Linked DNA regions of Homo sapiens. The protein of the gene in region 1 purifies or fractionates together with the protein of each later gene. This does not show direct contact. Each region holds a gene or a part of one and is shown in the gene's direction. Other genes may lie near its edges.

Region 1 (7,036 bases):
CAGGAGTGATGAAACAGACGCCTCTGCATTGATCACGGAAGCATAAGGGATCAAAACATCTGAAACTTTCATATTGGGAAATTTGACAGTAGCTGTCAAGATTAGAAATCTGTATACTTAAGCAGAAAATGCTTCCCTTAAAAAATTGGAAATCTATAAACTTTTTGATTTGACCATTTCATTTCTACTTTTTCTAATTTCTAATTTTTATTATATGGATTATATTGCTGCCTACAAAGATATATGTGTAAAGATGATGATTTTTGCATCATCATTGATAACAAAAAATCATAAGTGACCTTAATATACAAAATTGGGAAATTTGTTAAGTTATAGCGTAAATCATTTGGTGGATTATTATGCAAGTCTTAAAAAGAGGGTGTTGATCTTAAAAGAGTTCCAAGGTAGAGGATTGAGAAAAGCAAGATATCCACAGTGGAGTAAAGTTGTGTGTTTGTGTGTGCTAACAAATGTACACACACACACACACACACACACAGATTCATCTATATGTAATGGTTTGTAAGAAACCTAACACTGATACCTCTAAAGAGGAGGACTGATGATGAATCCATTAGGCAAAGATGAAAGGCTTTTTTTTTACTGTTTGTTTTTACTTTCCTCATGCGTAGTTTTATAATTAATACTTAGAATTAATTATTAACCCAGCAGTGCTTATTTAGGTAATTTTAAAAAGTCACCTACAAAATTCATTGGCACTGGAGAAGTTTCAGTTGGTTGTGAGGAGGATTGAAGGAAGTTGTTAATGTTTTTAATGTTTATTTTTAGAGTAGTGGAGCCTCAGGCAAAGGGAAAGCAACCTACAGAAAAACAAGTCCCAGAGTTATTGGAAAGTAAGGACTGCTGGTGGTGGAGTATTGAGTTTGACTGAGTTTCTAAACTAGGGGCCTTTGCAGTAATCAGTCAGCCTTGTAAGGAATATGAGTGCTTGATTCAGGCCAAGATGTGATGAGTTTATTTTTATTGCCTTATGGCTTTCAATTATGTGGCAGTAATACTCATTTCAAATGCGGAAGTGATTCTGTTACGTAGGCAAAATGGTAGCCACCTTTATTGAGACTTGACTCTGTGCCAGACTCTCTGGTCCTAGCTCCAGGTACAAAATCCAGTTTAATCTTTGCAGCCATCTTGGCAGGTAGAGACATTATTGTTATGCCATTTTACAGATTGGGAGACAGAGTTTCTTAGTGTGTTTGGACTGCTCTAACAAAATACTGTAAACTGGGTGGCTTATAAACAACAAGCATTTACTTCTCGTAGTTCTGAAGCTTGGGATATCCAAGATCAAGGTGCCAGCAGATAGGCTGTCTGGCTGTCTTCTGAGAGCCAGGTCCTCATACATGGTAGGTTCTTGCTGTGTACTCACGTGGCAGGAGCAAACAGACTCCCTTGGGCCTGTTTTATAAGGGTACTAATCCCATTCACAAGGACCTCATGACCTAATCACCTCCCAAAGGCCCTACCTCTTAATACTATCTCAGTGAGGGGTTAGGTTTCAATATTTGAATTTTAGGGGGAGACAAACATTCAGATCATAGCACATAGTTAACTTGCTCAAAGTCAAAGTCAGTTTCTTAAGACAGTCACAGCTATGCCTTTTTTTTTTTTTTTTTTTTTTTTTTTTTTTTTGAGACAGGGTCTTACCCTGTTGTCTAGGCTAGAGTGCAGTGGCGCAGAGTCGTGGCTCACTGAAGCCTCAACCTCCTGGTGGGCTCAGGTGATCTCCCTGCCTCAGGCTCCTGAGTAGCTGGGACTATTGGTGCACACCACCACACTTGGCTAATTTTTAAAATTATTTGTAGAGACGGGGTCTCCCTGTGTCGCCCAGGCTGGTCTCAAACTCCTGGGCTCAAGTGATCCTCCCACCTTGGCCTCCCAGAATGCTGGGATTACAGGTGTGATCCACGAAAGAGCTGCAGTTGGGTGTGAAAAACACTGTTGTGGGTTCAAGTGAGATAACGCATGTGGATAAAGCTCTCCACACAGAGCCTGGCATTCAGCAGGGGCTCCCTGAAGAGTGCTTGTTGTCATTACTATTATTTTTACAGTTTAATAATTGTAACTTTATTCAAAAACAAGTATTTAAAAAATGCCAAAAAATATTTACTGAGTGCTGGTGATGTGCCAGCTTTATAGCTATGTTGTATAATGTGCTTGCTTATCTGATAGGGCAAATCCACCCCATTCTTTCTCTTTTCTGACTGTTCCTAGCCTTTCTTCCTGATTAGCCTCTCAGGTAGAATCTAGTATCAAGTCTATCAAGTTCAGGAGAGAAAAAGAAGAAAAAAAACCACCAGTGGCATTTTGCCTGGATTTGATATCTTTAGGGTGTACTGACGTCTTCCTCTTTTAAAAAGAAGATAGGTCAAAGGGAAAGTAGTTCATGGTTAGCCTCTTAGGTCTGTGATGATGAGGACAGACATGTCTTGTATTAAGGACGGGAAGTATCTGTCAAGGCACTGCCAGGTACCAGGTACTACACTTATTTCTTTTTTTTGAGACGAAGTCTCGCTCTGTTGCCCAGGCTGGAGTGCAGTGGCGCGATCTCGGTTCACTGCAAGCTCCGCCTCCCGGGTTCATGCCATTCTCCTGCCTCAGCCTCCCGAGTAGCTGGGACTACAGGCGCCCGCCACCACGCCCGGCTAATTTTGTTTGTATTTTTAGTAGAGACAGGGTTTCACTGTGTTAGCCAGGATGGTCTTGATCTCCCGACCTCATGATCCGCCCGCCTCAGCCTCCCCAAGTGCTGGTATTACAGGCGTGAGCTGCCAGCCCTATGCTTATTTCTTTACCTTGGCAATTGCATTTCCTCCTCTCACCAATTGACTGACCTATAAAAGCCAGGGGAGACTGAGACCCCTCAGATAATAATGCTGGGTTGAGCCAGCTGCTTCGGTTCCCTTCAGAGCCCTTTATGTAGTGACGTTGCCTCTGGGCTTACAGATGACAGAAGCCCATGGCCTCAGGGAAATGCCGATCAGAGAATACACAACACACAAAAATAACAATAGAATCTGTGTACGGTTGAGATGGAACCTCTAGGGGATTCTAGAGGCTAGAGGAAGAGATCTCCAGTGCTTCTGCCATCTCTTTAGATAAGAGGGTGGAACTTGAGTTGAGCCCTGAAGGGATATTGCCAGCGACCATATAGATAATTTCTGTTAGGTGCTTGGCTGATACTCTTTGGAAGTTGGCATTGTCAGCCCATTCTACAGATGAGGAACAAGGGCTCAGAGACTGTAATAAGGAGGTCTCTTATTCAGAAATAAGAAATAAGACCGCCCAAGGTCACATAGCTAGATACTATGATGCTGGATTTGAATCCAAGTCTCCCCTACTCTAACTTCCTAAAGTCCTTTCATTATACAGAAGACTTAGTTGAGAGGTGGGCAGGGGGTGGTTGGAAGGTAGGAACATGTTTATTTCACTAATGATTTTAGACAAATTGAAGATTTTGTAAGAATTAGTTGCAAGGCAGGTAGACAGGGTGTTGTGAGGACTTTTCTTTGTGAAGCCTGGGCATTTGGGTTTTTGATCTCTAGATCCCTATGCTGGCCAGTATAACTGTCGGCCACCTATGTGACTATTTAAGTTAACATAAAATAAAATAAAAAAAGGATTTTAGTTAATTGCATTAGGCACATTTCAAATGCTCAACAGACACATATTCAATAATGTAGATATAAATATATCCACCATCCTGGAAAATTCTCTTGTGCAGCAAGTCTGAATAAAGGCTTGAATTCCAGCTCTTTTACTTTCTACCTCCATACCTTGGCACTTTATTGAACATGTCTGTGCCTCAGTTTCTTCATCTGTAAAATGGAGATCTCCATAGGACCCACCTCGTGGGGCTGGAATGGTAATTTAATGAGGTAGCATTTCGTACAGTGCTGGGCCCAAAAGTAAGCGTTCTGTAAATATCAGGTATATTATTAGGCATTGTGAGCTACTGATGGTTCTAAAACAGGGCTGTCTTTCGCCAATTAGTGTTTTCTGAAGTTTCATCTAATAGTAGTGTAGGGAAATAATAATACTAGCACCAGTAATGGTGAACTTTTATTTACCATTTGCCAAGGGCTGTGCAAAGTGCCTTTTATGCATTATTATCTCCCTGACTTTCCTGCCACCACTCCGTGACGCAAGACTGAGGTTCAAGATGTCTGTCTGAGTGCTGACAACCAGTGCAGGAAGACAGTAAAGAGAACTGAAATATGACCCATGGCGATTGGATTCTGGGCATGGTTATAATTGGAAAAGGCAGAGGCAAGGGACAAAACTTATAAACAAAGCCCTGAAGAAGCAATCACTGTATTTTCTGATTATGAAAATAATGTATGCTTATGAAACGTATGTGTTATGCAGAAAAATATACCGAAGAAATCAAATCGCAAATTGCTCATAATCCCACGATCTGGAGCTAACTACTCATAAACTTTTGGTGCGTTTGCACCTAGTCTTTTTCCTGTTTGTGTAGGAACGTCGTCATGTACACACTTCTATATCCTGCTTTTTGCAGTTGCAAGAGACATTCTAAAGACCAGTCAGCAGGACATAGAGAAGTGGGGAGTCAAAGATGACTCTGAGTGGCTTGGGGCCTTATTAAGTGGAAGAATGACCTTTCCCAAAGGCAGTGATGCTGGCCCTACGCGGGTTGGGGTGGGTAGAAGGGCGTGTTGGTCTGTTGATTTGTTTCGGGGTGCTGGTGGGAACTCCGGGCAGTAGAAACTCAGGTGAGTTATCAGCTCTGCGGATGCGCATTTGCAGATGGGTCACTGGAAGGTGATAGTTGCTGTGGTGGAAGTGAATTCTGTCTCTCAGGAAGGGTAAAGCAGAAAGAGAAAGGGTAACAGCAGTGCTGCATGAGCCGGGTTCAGGCTGGAGCTCTTCAGTGGGCTAGCCGAGTGACTGGGCAAGTTGATTTTCCTCTTTAAGGCTCAGGTTCTGTTTTGTAAAACAGTGATTCTCCAAGTGTGGTCCAGGGACAACTGGGTATCAGTGAGACTCTTTTATAGGGGGTTCACAACGTCAGAACTGTTTTCACAGTACTACTAAGATGTTATATTCCATTTTTTCATTCTCTCATGAAGGTACAGTCAAATTTTCCAGAAACTACATGGTGTGTGATGATGTCACGGCTCTATGGGCTGTGCATTTTGTTTAAAATTTTCACAGTTTTAATTTCTAACATGGTAACTATCAGTAGATATAATTGATGTTAATAAAAGCTCTTGAGCCTCCTCAGTAATTTTTTAAGCCTATAAAAGCGTCCTGAGGCCACAACATTTGAGAACCACTTCCATAAAATAATGCTGTATAAGTAGTTGAGATCAGATGAAATAAATAAATATATAATAACTGTCCACTAAATCATAGTTACTATTATCTTTTATACTCACTATGGTTACTGACAGCCAGATTTCAGGAGGTAGGAGTGGAGGATCAAGTTGGAGAGAGAAGGGGCATGGAGAGAGGAAGGGAGGAAGGCAGGAGAGTAGAATGTCACGCCTGACCAGGGGGCTCAAGGCTTGGGAGGAGGGAAGGTCGCCAGTGTGAGAGGCTGCACAGTCAGGTGGTCGGGCTCAAGTCTGTGGAGGGGTGGGAGGCAGTGCCATGGTTGTGGGAGGCTTGTGCAGTGTGATTGGGCTGTGAGGGCATTGGAGGTAGCCTGTTGCTGCCCTTCCAGTTAATGGAGAGATGAAAGGAAGGAGGGAGCCTCATTTCCGTTCATCTAAGCAGAGGTTGACTCCTGTAATCTTTTTTTTCTTTCAGTTTTTTTTTTTTTATTATACTTTAAGTTTTAGGGTACATGTGCACAACGTGCAGGTTAGTTACATATGGTATACATGTGCCATGTTGGTGTGCTGCACCCATTAACTCGTCATTTAACATTAGGTATATCTCCTAATGCTATCCCTCCCCTCTCCCCCCACCTCACAACAGGCCCCGGTGTGTGATGTTCCCCTTCCTGTGTCCAAGTGTTCTCATTGTTCAATTCCCACCTATGAGTGAGAACATGCGGTGTTTGGTTTTTTGTCCTTGCGATGCACACGTATGTTTATTGCGGCACTATTCACAATAGCAAAGACTTGGAACCAAGCCAAATGTCCAACAGTGATAGACTGGATTAAGAAAATGTGGCACATATACACCATGGAATACTATGCAGCCATAAAAAAGGTTGAGTTCCTGTCCTTTGTAGGGACATGGGTGAAGCTGGAAACCATCATTCTCAGCAAATTACCGCAAGGACTCCTGTAATCTTTTGAAACTTTTTTACTCCATGTTTGAGGCATGGCCTGGTCTGCATCCCTGGATCCCAGCCCTTACCTGGACATGACAAACCCAGGCTCAGCAGAAGACAGATTTTTTTGTTTGTCTCTTTTTGTTTTGAAGAAGAGAAAAAGAAAACAGGGAGTTTGGGGTTGGTGAAAGAAGGCTGGAGGAGCAAGGGAGGGAAGGGGCTGCTGGCTGGAAAGAGAAAGGAGGGGAGAGTTGCTGCTGTTGCTGACACCTTGAGTTGGGAGCGCATGGAAGTTTTTTCTTTCTTTTAGGTGAACTTTATAAGTAATATGATGCAAATGTCTGGTATTTTTCCTTATACAATATTTTAAAATATCTTTGTGTGCAAAATACACTTATACAAGGTGTATTAGTAGTTTAAAAGGTGCTCTTGAGTGACTTGGGTCACATAATTTGGTTTTAAACTTCTGTTGCTTTATTTTAAACATGGAAACTGTGTGAGCATGAGAGTGGAGTGGGAGAGAGTGGAGTGGCAGAGATCGAGTGTGTATGTGTTTCTTTTTGCCTGTCAGAGAGAGAGAAGTTATTTAGAAATGTCCAGTTGTGTGATATATAGCAGTTTGGTCTAAAGTTGATTGATGTGATACTTCCTTGTTTCTTGACTGTTTTTCTAAGTTATTTTGATAGCTTTGGCTGTTTTTGCAGATTCTGGAATTGGGATGCCATCTTACTGAAGCTTGTTTTGTGAAAGAGAATATGTTAATTATACTTA
Region 2 (3,875 bases), on another chromosome or scaffold:
CGTCGTAGCACTGCCTAGTCAGTTTAAGAAATAAAAAGGTATATCCCATTTAAAATGTTCATCAGACTGCAGTGGAAAAGGCGACTGCGTTTTACAGTGATGTCCACTGGGGATGATATGAGGGAAAGCTTCGTTACATAGTGTCGTAGGCTTCCCTCATGAGGCAGGTTAATTTCCACGGGACACTCATTCCCCGCACTGTGGGAGGAACGAGGTGTTACTCTCCTCAAGCAGGGGTCAGCAGACTTTTACGGTAAAGGACCCAATAATAAGTATCTCAGATGTCACGGGCTATATGTAGATACGTGTTAAAACTACTCAACTATCATTTTGGTGGGAAAGCAGACAGACAGCACATGAACATGTGGCAATGGCGAGGTTCCCGTGAAACTTTGTTTAGAAAAAGAGGGCCAGGGCCGGGCGCGGGGGCTCACGCCTGTAATCCCTGCACTTTGGGAGGCCAAGGCGGGTGGATCACAAGGTCAGGAGATCGAGACCATCCTGGCCAACATGGTGAAACCCCGTCTCTACTAAAAATACAAAAATTAGCTGGGCGTGGTGGCGGGCGCCTGTAATCCCAGCTACTCAGGAGGCTGAGGCAGGAGAATCGCTTGAACCAGGGAGGCGGAGGTTGCAGTGAGCCGAGATCGTGTCACTGCACTCCAGCCTGGGCGACAGTAAGACTCCATCTCAAAAAAATTTTAAAAGAAGAATCTAGTTGTATCCGGCCCGAGTGCTACTGTCTTCGTGACATGTTTTCACAGGTCTGAGAAAGAACCCCAGTTTAAGTTTATCTACTTCAACCACATGAATCTCGCCGAGAAGAGCACAGTTCACATGAGGAAAACGCCCAGCGTGTCGCTCACTTCCGTGCACCCGGATTTAATGAAGATTCTCGGTGACATCAACAGTGACTTTACCAGGTGATTCCAGCCACTTCTCCAATCAGGCGTCCCCTTTCTAAGACGAGAAAAGACACAGAAAATCCCTTCAAGCCCTTTCCATGGGGTTCAAGCGTGAACCACCTTCATGGGCGCCGCTTCCAAACAGACCCGGGAGCCCTGAAGTCACCGGTTCCCTCGCGCGGCACTCCCTGAGCCTTTTAAATGCCACGTGCGCCCGTTCCATTTCCTGTTCTTGGTTTGGAACGCTTATTCTCACAGTCTGGCCGTATGAGTAACGAACAATTGCATTTTGACCCTCGTCTTGCAGAGTGGATGAAGATGAGGAGATCATTGTGAAGGCCATGAGTGATTACTGGGTTGTTGGAAAGAAGTCTGATCGGCGGGAGCTCTATGTTATTTTGAATCAAAAAAATGCAAACCTGATTGAAGTAAATGGTAAGTAGGATTTGGTATTTCAGGAGAATTTGAGAAGTTGTCTTTTCATTGCATTAAGAAACATGGTTAAAAAATAGGTAAATAGAACAAATCATGACTGTTGAGATTCTAAGCAGGTGCCTCTGCTCCACATTTGATCCATTTTCTGTTCCTTGGAAAACTATGACAAGACCTTCCTGTAGCACAGGAAACTTGGCAATGGCAGAAAGAAAATTATTTTCTACAATTCTAAAAAAAAAAAAAAATGACTTTATATTAAGAAATGTCCCCCTTTTTTTGGAGACAGGTTCTCACTTTGTCACACAGGCTGGAGTGCAGTGGTGCAATCATAGCTCACCACAGCCCCCAACTCCTAGGATCAAGCAGTCCTCCCACCTCAGCCTCTAGAGTAGCTGAGACCACAGGCATGTATCACCAAGGCATGTGTCACCAGACCCAGCTAATTTCTTTTTTTTTTTTGAAACAGAGTCTTGCTCTGTCGCACAGGCTGGGCTCAAACTCCAGGCCTCAAGTGATCCTCTGGCCTCCCAAAGAGCTGGGATTACAGGCGTGAGCCACCTTGCCCAGCCCAAAATGTCCTTTTTTAATATCCTGTGATAAAAACATATCTTTTGTAGGGAGAAGCTGCCGGGTTCACATAGCCGTTTACAAGTATCCCTCTGTACACAGGCAGAAGGAGGCAGACATTTTCTCCTGCCTTCCCGCCAAAGCGGCCAGCCTTGCCCACTGCACGGGGTGACCCGGCAGCTGCGGTGCTGATAGCTCGGCTGCCCTGGAGAGAGGGGACCTCACCTCGGCAGAGCTGCCCCCTTGGGAGATGCCCCACGTGTACACTGTGTGGAAATTCAGTGTAAGCGTTTTTTTCCCCTTGTATCTTGGGCATACTACATTTTTCTCTTTATTAGTAATACCTGTGTTAGTCATTGTGCGCACTAGAAACATCAGTTAATGCAAGCCTGATCTAAACTGTGAATGTGGTAAGATCAAAATCCTGACCCCTCTGCGGAGCACTTGGTCTGCAGCTCAAGGTTGCTGTCCGTTTCTTTGTTGTTCCATTAGTTGTCCCAGGATGACAACCTTGTGCTTGGTGTGTGTCACCAGCCTTGTGCTTCTAACCCCCTCCCCTGGGTGTCCCGGGCACTTTGCAGTTTCTCAGGCCCCGGGCAGCAGTGTTGATAGGCTCAAAACTCCTGAGGCCTGGTAGGTTTTGTAGGTGGATTTTTTCCCCTCTTCTACTTGTTAACATTTCTTGGCTGGGCACAGTGGTTCATGCCTGTAATCCCAGCACTTTGGGAGACCAAGGTGGGCGGATCACTTGAGGTTAGGAGTTCGAGACCAGCCTGGCCAACATGGCGAAACCCTGTCTCTACCAAAAAATACAAACATTAGCAGGGCGTGGTGGTGTGCACCTGTAGTCCCAGCTACTTGGGAGGCAGAGGCTGCAGTGAGCCAAGATCACACCACTACACTCCAGCCTGGGTGACAGAGCAAGACTCTGTCTCAAACAAAAAAAAAAAAAAAAAAATTCTTGCCTAGTCTTCTGGGATTTAAGGTCAAAATCAATGCAAATCTCTCTTCCTAATTTTACCCAAGAAGAATTTAATTATATATTATGTAACCTTTTAAGTGACTGCCTCTTCCTTCCTCACTGTTGTGTCCTTGTTGCAGAAGAGGTCAAGAAACTTTGTGCAACGCAGTTCAACAACATCTTCTTCTTGGATTGACGGATGACGGCTCACCGAGAGCATATCTAAAAAACACTCTGCAAACATTTGGTCACATGCAAGTTAGTGGTCATATGACGGACTGCATTCAGGACAAGGGTAAAGCAATACTTGCTTTGAAGAATCAGATTTCGACTCGGTCTGCTGATCTGAGGTTTTTAGATTTTAAATATTTATGTGGAATTAATTAAAGGTAGTTGGCTATATCGCTATCATTTCATTCTTTTGACATTATTTGAATATTTTACTGGAAAATAAGACTAATAAATTGTTAAAAGTTTTTAAAATTCTGGTTTGGTGTTGAGTCTCTCTCCTGCTGCCTATTTATAGATTACACTGGCCACCAGCTCCGTGACCCAGGCTGGAATGCAATGGCTCACTGCAGCCTCAACCTCCTGAGCTCAAGCAATCCTCCCACCTCAGCCTCCCAAGAAGCTAGAACCACATGTACACACCACCACGGTCGGCTGATGTTTTAATTTTGCAGAGATGGGGGGGTCTCACTATGTTGCCCAGGCTGGTCTCGAACTCCCGTAATCCAGCCATGTAGGAAACCTGAGATGCAGTGGGCCAAGGGGTATGTTAAAACACTGTGACGAGTTCAGTGCTAAGAACTGTAATGCTCAGGAAATCTTACAGCACGTGCCATCCTAAGCCTGTGTGTGTGTCCTCGTGTCTCTCTACTTTTTCTTCTTCTTGCTGGTGATGGTCTTGCTGGATGGGGACACGGTCACATCCTCCTTGGGAGGGTCCAGTATGAGGTGAGAGGATGACACGTCTGCCGGCTCCTTGAGCACTGTGATGTCCACCT
Region 3 (7,036 bases), on another chromosome or scaffold:
TTACCCCAGTCCAGGTGCCCACAGAGTGAGCATGTGGACTCGGGCCTGGTGTGTGTATGGTAGGAGAGGGCAGAAGAGCCCCACTGTCTCCCTCTGGTCATTCCTGATCCAGCTGTACCCCCCCTTCTTACCCCTTCCTTCCCTAGAGGACCACAAGCTGGTGTTCCTACAACAGGGCCCACTGTTGCTCGTGGCCATGTCACGGACTTCTCAGTCAGCAGCCCAGCTGCGGGGGGAGCTGCTAGCTGTGCACGCACAGATCGTGAGCACACTTACACGTGCAAGTGTCGCCCGCATCTTCGCACACAAGCAGAACTATGACCTCCGCCGCCTGCTGGCTGGTTCAGAGCGCACACTGGACCGACTTCTGGACAGTATGGAGCAGGACCCAGGAGCCCTGCTCCTGGGTGCCGTGCGCTGTGTGCCCCTTGCCCGCCCGCTGCGAGACGCACTAGGTGCGCTCCTCCGACGTTGCACAGCGCCTGGCCTGGCGCTGTCAGTGCTGGCAGTAGGCGGTCGACTTATAACAGCAGCCCAGGAGCGAAATGTGCTGGCCGAGTGCCGGCTGGACCCAGCTGACCTGCAGTTGCTGCTCGACTGGGTGGGTGCACCAGCCTTTGCGGCGGGTGAGGCTTGGGCACCTGTGTGCCTGCCCCGCTTCAACCCTGATGGTTTTTTCTACGCCTACGTGGCCCGCCTGGATGCTATGCCTGTCTGCCTGCTGCTGCTTGGCACCCAACGTGAAGCCTTCCATGCCATGGCCGCCTGCCGGCGCCTGGTTGAAGATGGGATGCATGCCCTTGGTGCCATGCGTGCCCTTGGGGAGGCTGCCAGCTTCTCTAATGCCTCATCAGCCAGTGCTCCTGCCTACAGCGTGCAGGCTGTCGGGGCGCCGGGCCTCCGGCACTTCCTGTATAAGCCGCTGGACATCCCTGACCACCACCGCCAACTGCCCCAGTTTACCAGGTAGGCCCTGACCCTAAGGCAACTGGCTGGGTGGGAAGGCCTGTCAAACCAGGAAGTTCAGCATCTCAGGGATGTGACTCAGGAGAGATAACCAGCCATGCTTAAGAAAGAGGGAAGAGAACAAGTCTCTGTCTGATGATGGAGCATCAGCCACAGACCTAAAGGAATCCCCCTCTTCTGGTGGACAGCAGGGCCCTAGTACTCAGGGAATCTCCTAGTTTGATGAGGGAAGGTCAGCCTCCAACCCCTGAGAATCCTCAAGTCTCATGGGAGAGGCTCAGCTCCCTAACTTCATTGAAATCTCTAGACTGAGGGAGGAAATGGGCCAGCCAAGAAGGCCCTGGACTAACCTTGTCCTCCACCTCCCTCCATCATGGCAGCCCTGAGCTAGAGGCCCCCTACAGCAGAGAGGAGGAGCGGCAGCGGCTGTCGGACCTGTACCACCGCCTGCATGCTCGTCTCCACAGCACCTCCCGACCCCTGCGCCTCATTTACCACGTGGCTGAGAAGGAGACACTACTGGCCTGGGTAAGTTGGGCAGGGCTCTGAGTGAATTAATTCCCCACTTCAAGCCTCCTTTCCCTATATTGTATCCCCTCCAGCCACAGTGCCTCCACCAAACACAGCAGGCCTCTGGCTGGGCTGTGCCTTGCCTGCAACACTGTCCCTGCCTTTACACACACATCTTTGAAGCCCCTGACAACTAATGACCGTGTCTCTAATCCGACATTAGCCTCACCCTCCTGTGTGCTTCTCCCAGATTAGCAACCAGGACAGTGTCTTTGACTTTCCAGAGGCCCCATTAACTACCACTGCTGTGCCTGCCGATTCCCCAGTAGCCCAATCCATGTGTTTGGAGGCACCCCATTCATCACCAGCTCATTGTGACTCCATGAGTCCCCAGCACTCCTCAGACTACAGGCGTGGTCCCTTGCTGTGCCCTCCACCTGGGGTATCCTTCCCTTTGGTCTCCTCTGGGCTCCAGCCCTCACTTCCTATGGGTTTGCTAAAGGTCAGCTACTAAGGGAGGCCAGTGAAGGAGGCCTCATCAGAAATGGCACCTGCCATGTAATGCATATTTATTAATTTATTGCGTGACTGCTGTGGATCAGGTATTGTCCTAGGCTAAGAATTTTGTTTTTAAATTTTTTTAACTTTCATTTTCAAATAACTTTAGACTTAGAAGCTGCAAAAACAATATAAAGAGTTTTTATATTTATATTTATAAAGAGTTATAAAGGGCGTGGTGAAAACCACGCCTGGTCAGATGGTGGTTTTCCTAACTCCATCATTCTTTCTACATTTATTGGCTGGGATTTTACTATAAAGAGTAACATGGGGCCGGACGTGATGGCTCACGCCTGTAATCCCAGCACTTTGGGAGGCTGAGGCAGGCTGATCACTTGAGGTCAGGAGTTCGAGACCAGCCTGGCAAACATGGCAAAACCCCGTCTCTACTAAAAATACAAAAATTAGCTGGGCGTGGTGGTGCGCACCTGTAGTCCCAGCTATTCATAAGGCTGAGGCAGGAGAATCGCTTGAACCTGGGAGGTGGAGGTTGCCGTGAGCCAAGATCGCGCCACTGCACTCCAGCCTGGGCGACAGAGTAAGACTCCATTTCAAAAACAAAAAGGAATAACTTTTCCTTCTCCTATTTATTGAATTTTTAATTTTCTATCAATATTGTCTCATGGATTTTTCTTTAATTCAGTGAGCTAAAATCCTTCTCTAGCATTTATTTTGGTGTTCAGATTGCCTCTGATTTAGCCGGTGGGTACCCTGATTTAGCCAGGCTGATCCCTGTGTCTCTGACACGTCCCCTTCACTATGTGAGCACATCTTACTTGACTTTCTCTATTCCAGTCCTCAACTCAGCCATTTTTCCATGGAGCCCTTATACCTTTTAGTAGAGATTGGAATTTTAAAACCAAGATATGGGCCAGACACGGTGCCTCACGCCTATAATCCCAGCACTTTGGGAGGCTGAGTCGGGGTGGGAGTTGGGGGGAGTGGGCGGCGAGTCACAAGGTCAGGAGTTCGAGACCAGCCTGGCCAACAGGGTGGAACCCCATCTCTACTAAAAATACAAAAAATTAGCTGGATGTGGTGGCATGCGCTTGTATCCCAGCTACTCGGGAGGCTGAGGCAGGAGAATCGCTTGAACCTGGCAGGCGGAGGTTGCAGTGAGCCGAGACCGTGCCACTGCACTCCAGCCTGGGTAACAGAGTAAGACTCTACGTCAAAAACAAAAAAACAAAAACAAACAAAATATATGTTAGGAGCAGAATTTTAAACCAAGTGATCAGGGTGGCCTCCCTGAGCAGATGGCATCTGAGTGGAGTAGGGAGGTATTGAGCTACGTGGATATTAGGAGGAAGAGTACACCTGGCAGAGGGAAAGGACTGATATGCTATGAGGTGGAACCAAGCCTGGCTATGTTTGAGGAATAGCAAGGAAAGGGTAGAGTGGCCGGAGCAGAGGGAGTGAAGGGGAGCGCTCTGGGAGGTGGCACAGGAAAGGCGCTAGTGACCTTGTGGGGTCAGGCCTCTCCATGTGGTATGAGGCATAAATTGAGTTCCTCTTTATATTATTCCCTGGCTGTAGATGATGAAAACATAGTTGTAGGAGCTTAGAGCAGGACCTTGTACACAATAGGTTACTGACAGAATATTAAACATTGTTACTGTTTTCCCCAGTTCCCAATGAGCAAACAGGTCTAGAGAGTACCCACACACACAACCAGCATCATCCAGTTGAAGTCACTAGGTCCAGCTGAAATTGCACAATATCAGCTTACCTACCTTAGCCCAGTATCTAGGCAGCACCTGGTAGGAGGTGCTGCCAGGTACATGTTCCAGGTTGCAGGAGGCAGACATGCAGCTGCACTGGGGTAGGCAGGATTGTCCATAGCCAGCTCTGGCCCATCTGACTCTGTCTCCTCCGAAACCCCCAGGTGACCTCCAAATTCGAGCTCTATACCTGCCTCAGCCCTCTGGTGACCAAGGCAGGTGCAATCTTGGTAGTGACCAAACTCCTGCGCTGGGTGAAGAAAGAGGAGGACCGGCTCTTCATTCGTTACCCACCCAAGTACTCCACACCACCAGCCACCTCTACGGACCAAGCTGCCCATAATGGCTTGTTCACTGGACTCTGATAGTTGGAGCTCCCAGACCAGGCAGTGCTGGGAGCAACCACCTTTGTTTTTTACCTTCTGTCTACCCTGGAAATGTGTGTGGGGGTGTGTCTGTGGCCAGTCATTGTCTCCCTAAGCAATGGGGCAAGGTCTGAGGGCCCACCGATGAGAGAGATGGTGGCAGCCGCCAGGCGAGCAGGCTGCTTTCCCTGCCCAGTCATGCACCTCCCCCTCTGGGGAAATCCTTAGGCCTCCCTCTCCCTTCCCTCTGTCTCATCTCCTCCACTTGGATGATGCTCTAGCCTCTGTCAGGGACTGTCCCCTCCAAACTTGCTTCCGTGGTCTGCCTCCTAGTTGAATCTCAGCCCTGAGTGTCCAGATCTGGCCAAGGTGTCTAGGGTGGCCCACGGGGGTGCTGGAATTGGCACTTCAGGGCCAGGCTATGCTTGGGACTGGCCTGAGGGTATTTTAAAGAAAAAAACTACATAAAAGGCCTAAAAGTAAGACCCACAAGGATATTCCTTTGCCCTTCTTGTACTTTTTTCATCTTTACCCTGCCAGAAATGACCCGCCCTCAATGCTGGCTGCTGCTAACATTAATGAGAAGGTGGCCTTCAGTGTCCACCTGTGGAACCCAGGACACAGCACCTGACTGCACACAGTGGCTGAAATCCAGCATTTTTACATAGGAGATGCACTTAGCCTCTAAGCCTCGTTTTACTCATCTGTGAAACAGAGATAAGTAACCCTCTCTCATGAACTCTTTGATGAGGATTTGTAAACGAAAACAGACTCGAACTATTGTGTACCACCACATAGCACATGCACGTCTGTCCCAGACTTTGACAACCTGCACAAGACAAGCAGCCTAAAGCAGGAGAGACCTCCCTAGGGTTTTGTGTGTGTGCACACTACCCTCACTCCCCAACTGGCCATTACCCTAGTTCTGCCCTTGTTTGTGGAGTTACAGCCTCAAGGTTGTAGCATGTGTGCTGGCAATCAGGGCCGCAGTGTGTTCTGCGCCTGCCCAGAGCTGACTCCTGATTTAACCGCTGGCGTAACCGCGGGTTGCACGCATGCGTGCTGAAAAGCCTTTCACCCTCACGTGGTTTCTTTTTTAACCAGTCATCAAGCGAGGCTCGCGCGCAGGCCCCGCGTTGGAAAATGGCGGGGAAGCTGAAACCTCTGAATGTGGAGGCGCCAGAAGCTACTGAGGAGGCTGAAGGTAGTGAGGGCAAGTGGGCTGCACTCCTTTCTCTCCAACCAGGGCAGAAAGGAGGGAGGATTCGTCCCATTACAATAATGAAATAATGATATTCTAATTTTTTTAAATAAAATGTTAAGCCTTTTGTTATTGAAGAAAAACAATTTTTTAACCGTTCAGCACAGTGGAGATAAATTAACAGGCATATTCTTATCACCGAGATTAACTTTTGTCAACTGTAGTGTATACGTTGTTGAAAGTAAACAACATGTAGTTCAGTACGAAAGTCTTCAAACAAAAGTGGGGCGGTGGGGATGTTCTCATAACAATCACCGTGCTGCAGCCACCCCTTATTAACAGTAATTCCCAGTGTCGCCATTTCACACCTAACACATATGACACTTTGATGGACTCTTAAACCTCCTAATCGAACATGGCCTCCCCCACAGCCTCTTTTCTCCAGGGTATTGACTTGAATGACAGGCAAAGGAGGGTGGAGGGGTGTCGGCCTAGACACTATTGGAAATTGTATTCCATCCAAAAGAAAAAAAAATCTCAGGCCGGGCACGGAGGCTCACGCCTGTAATCCCAGCACTTTGGGAGGCCGAGGCGGGCGGATCACGAGGTTAGGAGTTCGAGGCCAGCCTGACCAACATGGTGAAACACCATCTCTACTAAAAAACTATATATACATATACATATGTGTGTATGTGTATTTATATGTATGTATGTATGTGTGTGTATATATATATATATGTATATGTGTATATATATATATATGTGTATATATATATATATATACACACACTAATCAGCCGGGCGCGGTGGTGTGGGCCTGTAATCGCAGCTACTCAGGAAGCTGAGGCAGGAGAATCACTTGAACCCGAGAGGCGGAGGTTGCAGTGAGCCGAGATCATGTCACTGCACTCCAGCCTGGGTGACAGAGTGAGACTCCGTCTCAAAAGAAAAAAAATTCTCCCTTGGCCGGGCTTGGTGGCTTATGCCTGTAATCCCAGCACTTTGGAAGGCCGAGGCGGGTGGGTCACCTGAGGTCAGGAGTTTGAGACCAGCCTGGCCAGCATGGCGAAACCTCGTCTCTACTAAAAATACAAAAATTGTCCGGGTGTGGTGGCGGGCGCCTGTAGTCCCAGCTACTGGGGAGGCTGAGGCAGGGGAATTGCTTGAACCCGGGAGGCAGAGGTTATCGTGAGCTGACATTGCGCCACTGCACTCCAGCGCGGAAGACAGAGTGAGCAAAAAAAAAAAAAAAAAAAGAAAAAACAAAAAGAAAAAAATCTCCCAAGGCAGTCATGCATTTGTATGCCACTAGCATTTTTTTGTTATAGAAATATTCAAAGTGTACCAACGTAGAGAAAATAGCTTTAAACAAAGCCCATGTGTACCTATCAGTATGCTTTAACTGTTGTCACCTTTCTGCCCCACTTTTATCTATCTCGAACACCCCTTTCTGCACACTCTTTAAACCACTGTATTAACAAACACATTAGACTGCATCCTGCCAGACCTACCCATACAGACATCAAAGTAATGATTATTGCTTATTGCCTGACCTAGGATGTGAGCTCCATGAGAACAGAGACTGTTTACCTCTCGCTCCCCTGCACCTAAAACAATGCCTGCTTGGTGTAAAGTAAGTGCTCAGTAATTTTTTAATGTGTGACCAATGAAATAACTTCAAGAGCAGAGAGCTCTTTTAGATTAGAGGCACATAC
Region 4 (6,896 bases), on another chromosome or scaffold:
TTCGAATTCCCATTGTGCTGGGAGTCAGAATCTTAATTATGTCAGGTAATTAAGCAACCTCTTCTCCCTTCTTACCATAGGCTGGGGGAGAGAGTCGAGGCCCCAGATGGGACTGGAGTATTCTCAGTCCGAATAGTGAACACAGAGTCATCCTCAATCCTCTCTACTCTCGTGGTCTTGAGGGGCCACTGCTACCTCCTCCTGGTCCTGACCTTGAGGCTTCTCAGCACTGGCTTTCTCTGAATTCCTTTTATGCACAAGTAAATCATTCAGCTTCTTCCTGAACAATAAGGATATCTCGTCCAGATACCCCTGTTCCCTGGTTACTCTACTGTTACTGAGCCATGCTGGACCCAGAGGGGAACTCTGCAAAGCTCACCACCTCCCCCAGCTTCCCCAGGGAGAAAGACACACACACCCTCTCCTCTGAGACCTCCAAACCTATGCGGGTATCTGTCATCACTACCACTCCTGCCTCGTACCCGTCCACACCCAAGGACTGTGTTTGGAGAGGCAGATGCATTGAGCTCTAAGCGTTCTTGCATCCTTAACTTTGAAACCATAAAAGCATGTTCTTTTCTTTGATCTCTGCATGTTTAATTTTGTTTTTTGTCATCTCCCTCTTTCGATGCCTCCTGCAATGAATTCTATGTGGGAGGAAGGGAGAGGCAAACATGTACAAGGACACAGAGGTATCCTGGGAGAAACTGTGACTCATACTATAAAATATTAATCTCACTCACTTGTATAGCACCTTGTGCTTTATTTTTATTTATTTATTTATTTATTTATTTATTTATTTATTTTTTGAGGCAGAGTCTCACTCCATCCCGCTGCTGGAGTGCAGTGGCGCAATCTCAGCTCACTGCAACCTCCGCCTCCCAGGTTCAAGCAATTCTCCTGCCTCGGTCTCCCGAGTAGCTGGGACTACAGGCACCTGCCACCACGCATGGCTATTTATTTTTATTTTTTAGTAGAGACGATGTTTCACCATGTTGGGCCTCAAACTCCTGACCTCAAGTGATCTGCCAGCCTCGGCCTCCCAAAGTGCTGGGATTACAGGCATGAGCCACCACACCCAGCCAAAACATGTATTTCTCATGGAATAATTTCATGCACTAGAGCAAGCTAATTGGGAAAGTCAATAGCAAGGAGCAGTAGCAATCGTTTATGAAATAATGATGAGGTGCTGGCACCTGATGCACATTCATAGTCCCATTTAACTCTTCAAGTGAAACTCTCACTTGGCAGGAATTTACTATTAGCCATTTTCCAAATAAGAGATACAGACAAGAGAGTCTCCATCTCTTCTTTGGTGCAAGGAGATTGGTGCAGTCGGTGAGTGGCAAAAGTGGATATGTACCCAGATCTGTCTCCAGTCCAAATTCCAACTCATCACTTCCCTAAAAGTGGTCTATTCTGCCAGGCTGGATAAGGGAAGTGGTTCTGCTTCCAAACTTAATATGTGACAGATAAGGCAATCTAAACCAAAGTCTTCTTGAGCTTGGTCAAACCATATGCTGCCAAGGCTTGAATCCACATAACTGTAACAAGCCATCCCAACTATGCCACAACCCACACACCTCAAAGGCAAGGGAATCCCAGGCAGCAAGGTCCAGGAACAGCCACTCTGGGGAGTCTGCCACCTCTGATATTGCTCCCGTGGCACACACGGTGCCCCATCTGCCTCCAGACCTGCGCTGAAGGAATGGGGGAAAGGGGCAAACTTTGTAGGTGTGGGTGATCCAGTGGTCACTTGAGGTCTCTCAAACAAGGACTCTGTAGATGATGTTAATGGGCCAAACGGAATGCACATCTGCCCTTAAGTGTGTTTCTTTTCTTTCTTTTCTTCTTTCTTTCTTTCTTTTTTTTTTTTTTTTGTTGAGACAGGGTCTGGATCTGTTGCCCAGGCTGGAGTGTAGTGGTGCAATCTTGGCTCACTGCAACCTCCACCTACTGGGTTCAAGTAATTCTTCTGCCTCAAGCCTCCCAAGTAGCTGGAACCACAGGCATGTGCCACCACGCCTGGCTAGTTTTTTGTATTTTAGTAGAGACGGGGCTGGTCTGGAACTCCGGGCCTCAAGTGATCCACCCACCTTGGCCTCCCAAAGTGCTGGGATTACAGCTATGAGCCACCGTGGCTAGCCTTGTTTATTTCTAAATGAGGCTTCCTTTGTGTCTCTACATTTCCTTCTACAAAAAAAACTGCCATGGCACAGGGGCTTATGCCTACAATCCCAGCACTTGGAGAGCCCAAGGCCAGTGGATCACTTGAGTCCAGGAGTTCGAGACCAGCCTGGGTTAACATAGTGAGACCCCAGCTCTACGAAAAATTTAAAAATTAGCCAGCCATGGTGGCATGCACCTGTGGTCCCAGCTATTCGGGAGGCTGAGGTGGGAGGATCACTTGAGCCCAGGAGTTCCAGGCTGCAGTGACGTCTGATCTGGCCACTGCAATCCAGCCTGGGCAACAGAGCAAAGTGCTGTTTTAGAATAAAATACTTTTTAAATAAACTAAAAACAAAACAATGGACCTGGTGTGGGTGGCTCACATCTGTAATCCCAGCACTTTGGGAGGGCAGGTGAGGCAGAATAGGGAATGAGGGTAACCAAGGGTTAAGGCATAAACAAAAGAACAGCAGGTGCAGCCAGTTCTAGGCAAGATTAGGCAGCATAGAGGCCACGTGTTCATTCCCTCAATCAGAGGCTGATTGATGGACGACGGGGGGGGGGGCGGGGGGGAGGGTGACAGCCTCTGATTGACGGGGGGGGGGGGGGGGGCGGGTGCGCGTCTCCACTTCAGCCTCTGATTGGTCACAGGCCAATCCTTCAGAGGGTGTAACCAATCGGAGACCTCTAACGGGCACCTAGGGGCGTTACCTAATTCTTCCAGCTTAATAAAAATCCTAATGGGGGCTCTTGAGCTGTTTGCTCTAGCTTGCTCCTGCTCTGTGAGTTGTACTTTCGCTTCAATAAATCTGTTTCTTCCTTACTTCAGTTTTTTCTTTTGTTTCTTTTCGTTGCTTTGTTCTTTTGTTACTTTGTGCATTGCATTTTGTTCAGTTCTGTGTTCAACAAGCCAAGAACCTGGGCAATCCACGGTCAAGACCTTCCATCCAGTAGCAGAGGCAGGAGGATCCCCTGATGCCAAGAGTTAGAGAGCAGCCGGGGCAACAAAGTGAGACCCTGTCTCTACTATCTATCTATCTATTTTTTAATTATCTGGGCATGGTAGTGCATGCCTGTGGTCTCAGCTACTCCTCAGGCTGAGGTGGGAAGATCCCTTGAGCCCAGGAGTTGAGGCTGCAGTGAGCTATGATGGCACCACTGCACTGCAACCTGGGTGACAAAGCGAGATCTTGTCTCTAAATTAAATTTAAAACAATACCACCAAAACAACAACAGGCTGGGCGGTGGTGTCTCACGCCTGTAATCGGAGCACTTTGGGAGGCCGAAGTGGGAGACCATTTGAGGCCAGGAGTTCGAGAGCAGCCTGGGCAACACAGACCCCACCTCTACAAAAAAATAAAACTGGCCTTGGTGGCGCGCGCCTGTAATCCTAGCTACTTGGGAGGCTGAGGCAGGGGGATTGCTTGAGTCTCGGACGTTGAGGCTGCAGTGAGCTGAGATCGCGCCACTACACTCCAGCCTGGATGACAAACTGAGACCCTATCAGAAAAAACAACAACAAAAAAAAAACAGTGCCCGCTCGGTTTTTCCTGAAACGCGCAGCCCTCGCCTGTAGCCAGGAGAAAACTCCGCGAGCCAGGAAAACACAAACTCGGCCAGGAAACAGCCACCCGGGGGTGCCTGAAGAGGACGCTGCGAGGCGGATTCTTTTTCCGGGCCTGCGGCGAGCGCTTCCGGGGCGGTGGCGACGGAGGCGGAAGTGCGGTGTTTTAGCCGGTGGCTGCTGTCTCTGGGCGGGCCGTGGGAGGCTCCCGAGGTGGGGGCCGGGGCGGGATGGCTGCAGCGGCGGCCGGGGCCGGGAGCGGGCCCTGGGCGGCCCAGGAGAAGCAGTTCCCGCCGGCGCTGCTGAGTTTCTTCATCTACAACCCGCGCTTCGGGCCGCGCGAAGGACAGGTATGCGGAGGGGGCGGCGCGCGGGCGGGCGGCGCCGGTGTTCCCCGGGAAGGTGGCCCTGTGGTTCTGCCCACCTCGAGGGGCACTGACCTAGCCTGCATTGTGCCAGGTGCGAGTCCGGGCAGGGGGCTGCGGCGGGGACCTGACAGCAGGCAGGGACCGCTTCAGGTCCTAGGTCGATGGAATAAAGCCCCGTCGGGTCTATATCACTCCACACCCCAGGTTGAGGCTCTTTGCGCTTTGCTTTGCGTCAGTTCTGGGAAATTAAAATTGAACTTGGCTTTGTTAAGTGGGTAGTCCCCAACTAGAAGCGTGGAACCAGGGTGGCAGACGCTAGCCTTCAAATGATGCAAGCCTGGAGGTCCCTGTAATAGTTTTCGCCCAAATGAGGAAATAAATTAATTTCGGGAGGGGGGTGTGTGTGTGTGTGTGTGTGTGTGTGTGTGTGTGTGTGTGTGTGTGTGGTTTTTCTGAGGTGGGGACGGCGACTTTCTCAAAGGATGTCCGGAGCTGTGTTTTGTTTCCAGCAAGTCAGACTTCTGTTAAAGACTGTCCAGGCTGGGCGCTGTGACTCACGCCTGTAATCCCAGCACTTTAGGAGGCCGAGATGGGAGGATTGCTTGAGGCCAGGGGTTCCAGACCAGCCTGGGCAACATAGCAAGACCCCCAACTCTACAAAAAAAAAAAAAATTGAAAAGTGAGCCGGGCGTGGTGGCACGCACCTGTATTTCCAGTTACTCAGGAGGCTGAGGCCAGAGGATCGCTTGAGCCCAAGTGATTGAGGCTGCAGGTGAGCTGTAATAGCGCCACTGCACTACAGCCTGGGCAGCACAGACCCCATCTCCAGAAAAAGAAAAAAAAGCAACTTGTCAGTTCAAATGGCTGGGAACTGACTGGATTTAATTTTCAGGGAGCTATGTGTCTGCAGATGGGCACACCTTTATTTCTTACAAGCATTGGTGTATTACAAATTAGCACTAGGAAAGAAACCTAGAGACTTGAGTTTTCATAAAAATTACCTGGTGCTACTTCAGATGTGACTTACTGACTATCGAAATTGCCTTTCTGACTGGTGGGCAGTATTTGCACAATGATGAGATCATTCCTGTTCTTCTTCTTATTTTAAATAATAGAGACGTCTCACTGTGTTGCCATGCTGGTCTTGAACTCCTGAGCTCAAGTGATCCTCCCGCCTCAGCCTCTGAAAATACTAGGATTACAATTCCTGTTTTTCTAAAACCGGTTTTTGTTTTGTTTTGTCATTAGCATGTGTGACACAAGAGGTCGACATTGAACTTAGCGTTTTCAATAGCTAAGATGAAATGTTTCTATTCATGTTGTGCTTCTGTTTCCTCATGTTTCAGGAGGAAAATAAGATTTTATTTTATCATCCAAATGAGGTAGAAAAGAATGAGAAGATTAGAAATGTCGGATTGTGTGAAGCTATTGTACAGTTTACAAGGTAATACCTCTAAGTGTGCTTTTAGCGTTCAGTGAATTCTTAAAACTGCTGCTGGAGAATTGTCCCAAACATATTTTTTTAACCTTTGTAGGACATTTAGCCCATCAAAACCTGCAAAATCTTTACATACACAGAAGAACAGACAGTTCTTCAATGAACCAGAAGAAAATTTCTGGATGGTCATGGTATTTACATACACAGTGTATCTTTCTGAAATTGTATGGTGAAGTTATGGGTGATCTTTACTGTTCAGAATTTAGGAAAGTTCTCTGGCTGTTGCATCCAAGTAAAATTAAAATAAAATTGGTTGCAATTTTAAAATCAAGTTCTTCCTATTTGCTTTATTCATTCTTGGGGCTGTTTTAAGAAGCTATGTTTCTGATGCTGTAGCATGTTCAAAGTTTTTAAATTAAGGCAAAATAAACATGGTCTAATGAATTCATTGTATAATTTCAGTTTATCAAACTTTGTAGGTTGTTCGGAATCCTATAATTGAAAAACAGAGTAAAGATGGAAAACCAGTTATTGAATATCAAGAGGAGGAGTTGTTGGTAATGTGTCATTGTTTGTTTATTTATTTATTTTTTTAAATGTATTGCTGAGTATGTTGAATGCCTTACTTGGTCGGATTTAAACTAGGAGGCTTTTGCAGAAGTTTCTCGGGGTATATAGCAAAGGTTTATGTTTATCATTTACATGAGCACAATCTTTTTAAAATGTATATGCACCCAATCTCACTAATACCTTCTACTCTTCATTTATATTGAAAGCCCTCCTAAAGTAAGGCTTACTGATTCACAAATTAGAGTTTAAACACTTCTGGCTGGGAACAGTGGCTCACACCTGTAATCCTAGTACTTTGGGAGGTCAAGGCAGGCAGATTACTTGAGGTCAGGGGTCCGAGACCAGCCTGGCCAATATGGCGGAACCCTGTCTCTACTAAAACTACAAAAACTGGCCAGGGATGGTGGCGCACACCTGTCATCCCGGCTTCTCAGGAGGCTGAGGCAGGAGAATCGCTTGAACCGGGGACGCAAATGTTGCAGTGAGCCAAGATTGTACCACTGCGCTCCAGCCTGGACAACAGAGCGAGACTCCATCTCAAAAAAAAAAAAAAAAGAACGCAAACACTTTTTTTTCAGCACGCAACTATTGTGGGACAAAGTTTATAAACATTATACTGTTTGGCCAAGAGTTAGTGTACCTTTGCCATCTATCCAGTAGACATTGTTTTTCCCTTGAACTGAGCTGTGTGCTGTGTTTTCGCGTCTGCAGGACAAGGTTTATAGCTCGGTGCTGCGGCAGTGCTACAGCATGTACAAGGTAAGCGTGGCGTTCTTTCTCAACTCAG

The links.
Region 2: the proteins of KIF16B (region 1) and CCZ1B purify together in Homo sapiens (co-immunoprecipitation; 2 studies listed by IntAct). This does not show direct contact.
Region 3: the proteins of KIF16B (region 1) and MON1B purify together in Homo sapiens (affinity purification with mass spectrometry; 2 studies listed by BioGRID and IntAct, with this or other methods). This does not show direct contact.
Region 4: the proteins of KIF16B (region 1) and CCZ1 purify together in Homo sapiens (affinity purification with mass spectrometry, with the first as the bait; 2 studies listed by BioGRID). This does not show direct contact.

What each region holds. Positions count from the first base shown.
Region 1 is NC_000020.11:16,563,434-16,570,469, reverse strand, and holds part of KIF16B (kinesin-like protein KIF16B), read left to right. Parts: intron 1-7,036. UniProt on the Homo sapiens protein: Plus end-directed microtubule-dependent motor protein involved in endosome transport and receptor recycling and degradation.
Region 2 is NC_000007.14:6,798,413-6,802,287, reverse strand, and holds the end of CCZ1B (vacuolar fusion protein CCZ1 homolog B), read left to right. Parts: intron 1-764; coding exon 765-923; intron 924-1,212; coding exon 1,213-1,340; intron 1,341-3,008; coding exon 3,009-3,064; 3' UTR 3,065-3,351; downstream 3,352-3,875. Other genes in the region: RSPH10B2 (radial spoke head 10 homolog B2), read right to left, coding at 3,745-3,875.
Region 3 is NC_000016.10:77,194,189-77,201,224, forward strand, and holds part of MON1B (vacuolar fusion protein MON1 homolog B), read left to right. Parts: intron 1-146; coding exon 147-966; intron 967-1,346; coding exon 1,347-1,494; intron 1,495-3,919; coding exon 3,920-4,120; 3' UTR 4,121-5,263; coding exon of another isoform or gene 5,264-5,324; 3' UTR 5,325-7,036. Other genes in the region: SYCE1L (synaptonemal complex central element protein 1-like), read left to right, coding at 5,264-5,324.
Region 4 is NC_000007.14:5,894,837-5,901,732, forward strand, and holds the start of CCZ1 (vacuolar fusion protein CCZ1 homolog), read left to right. Parts: upstream 1-3,896; 5' UTR 3,897-3,963; coding exon 3,964-4,083; intron 4,084-5,447; coding exon 5,448-5,545; intron 5,546-5,636; coding exon 5,637-5,730; intron 5,731-6,018; coding exon 6,019-6,096; intron 6,097-6,820; coding exon 6,821-6,868; intron 6,869-6,896. UniProt on the Homo sapiens protein: Acts in concert with MON1A, as a guanine exchange factor (GEF) for RAB7, promotes the exchange of GDP to GTP, converting it from an inactive GDP-bound form into an active GTP-bound form.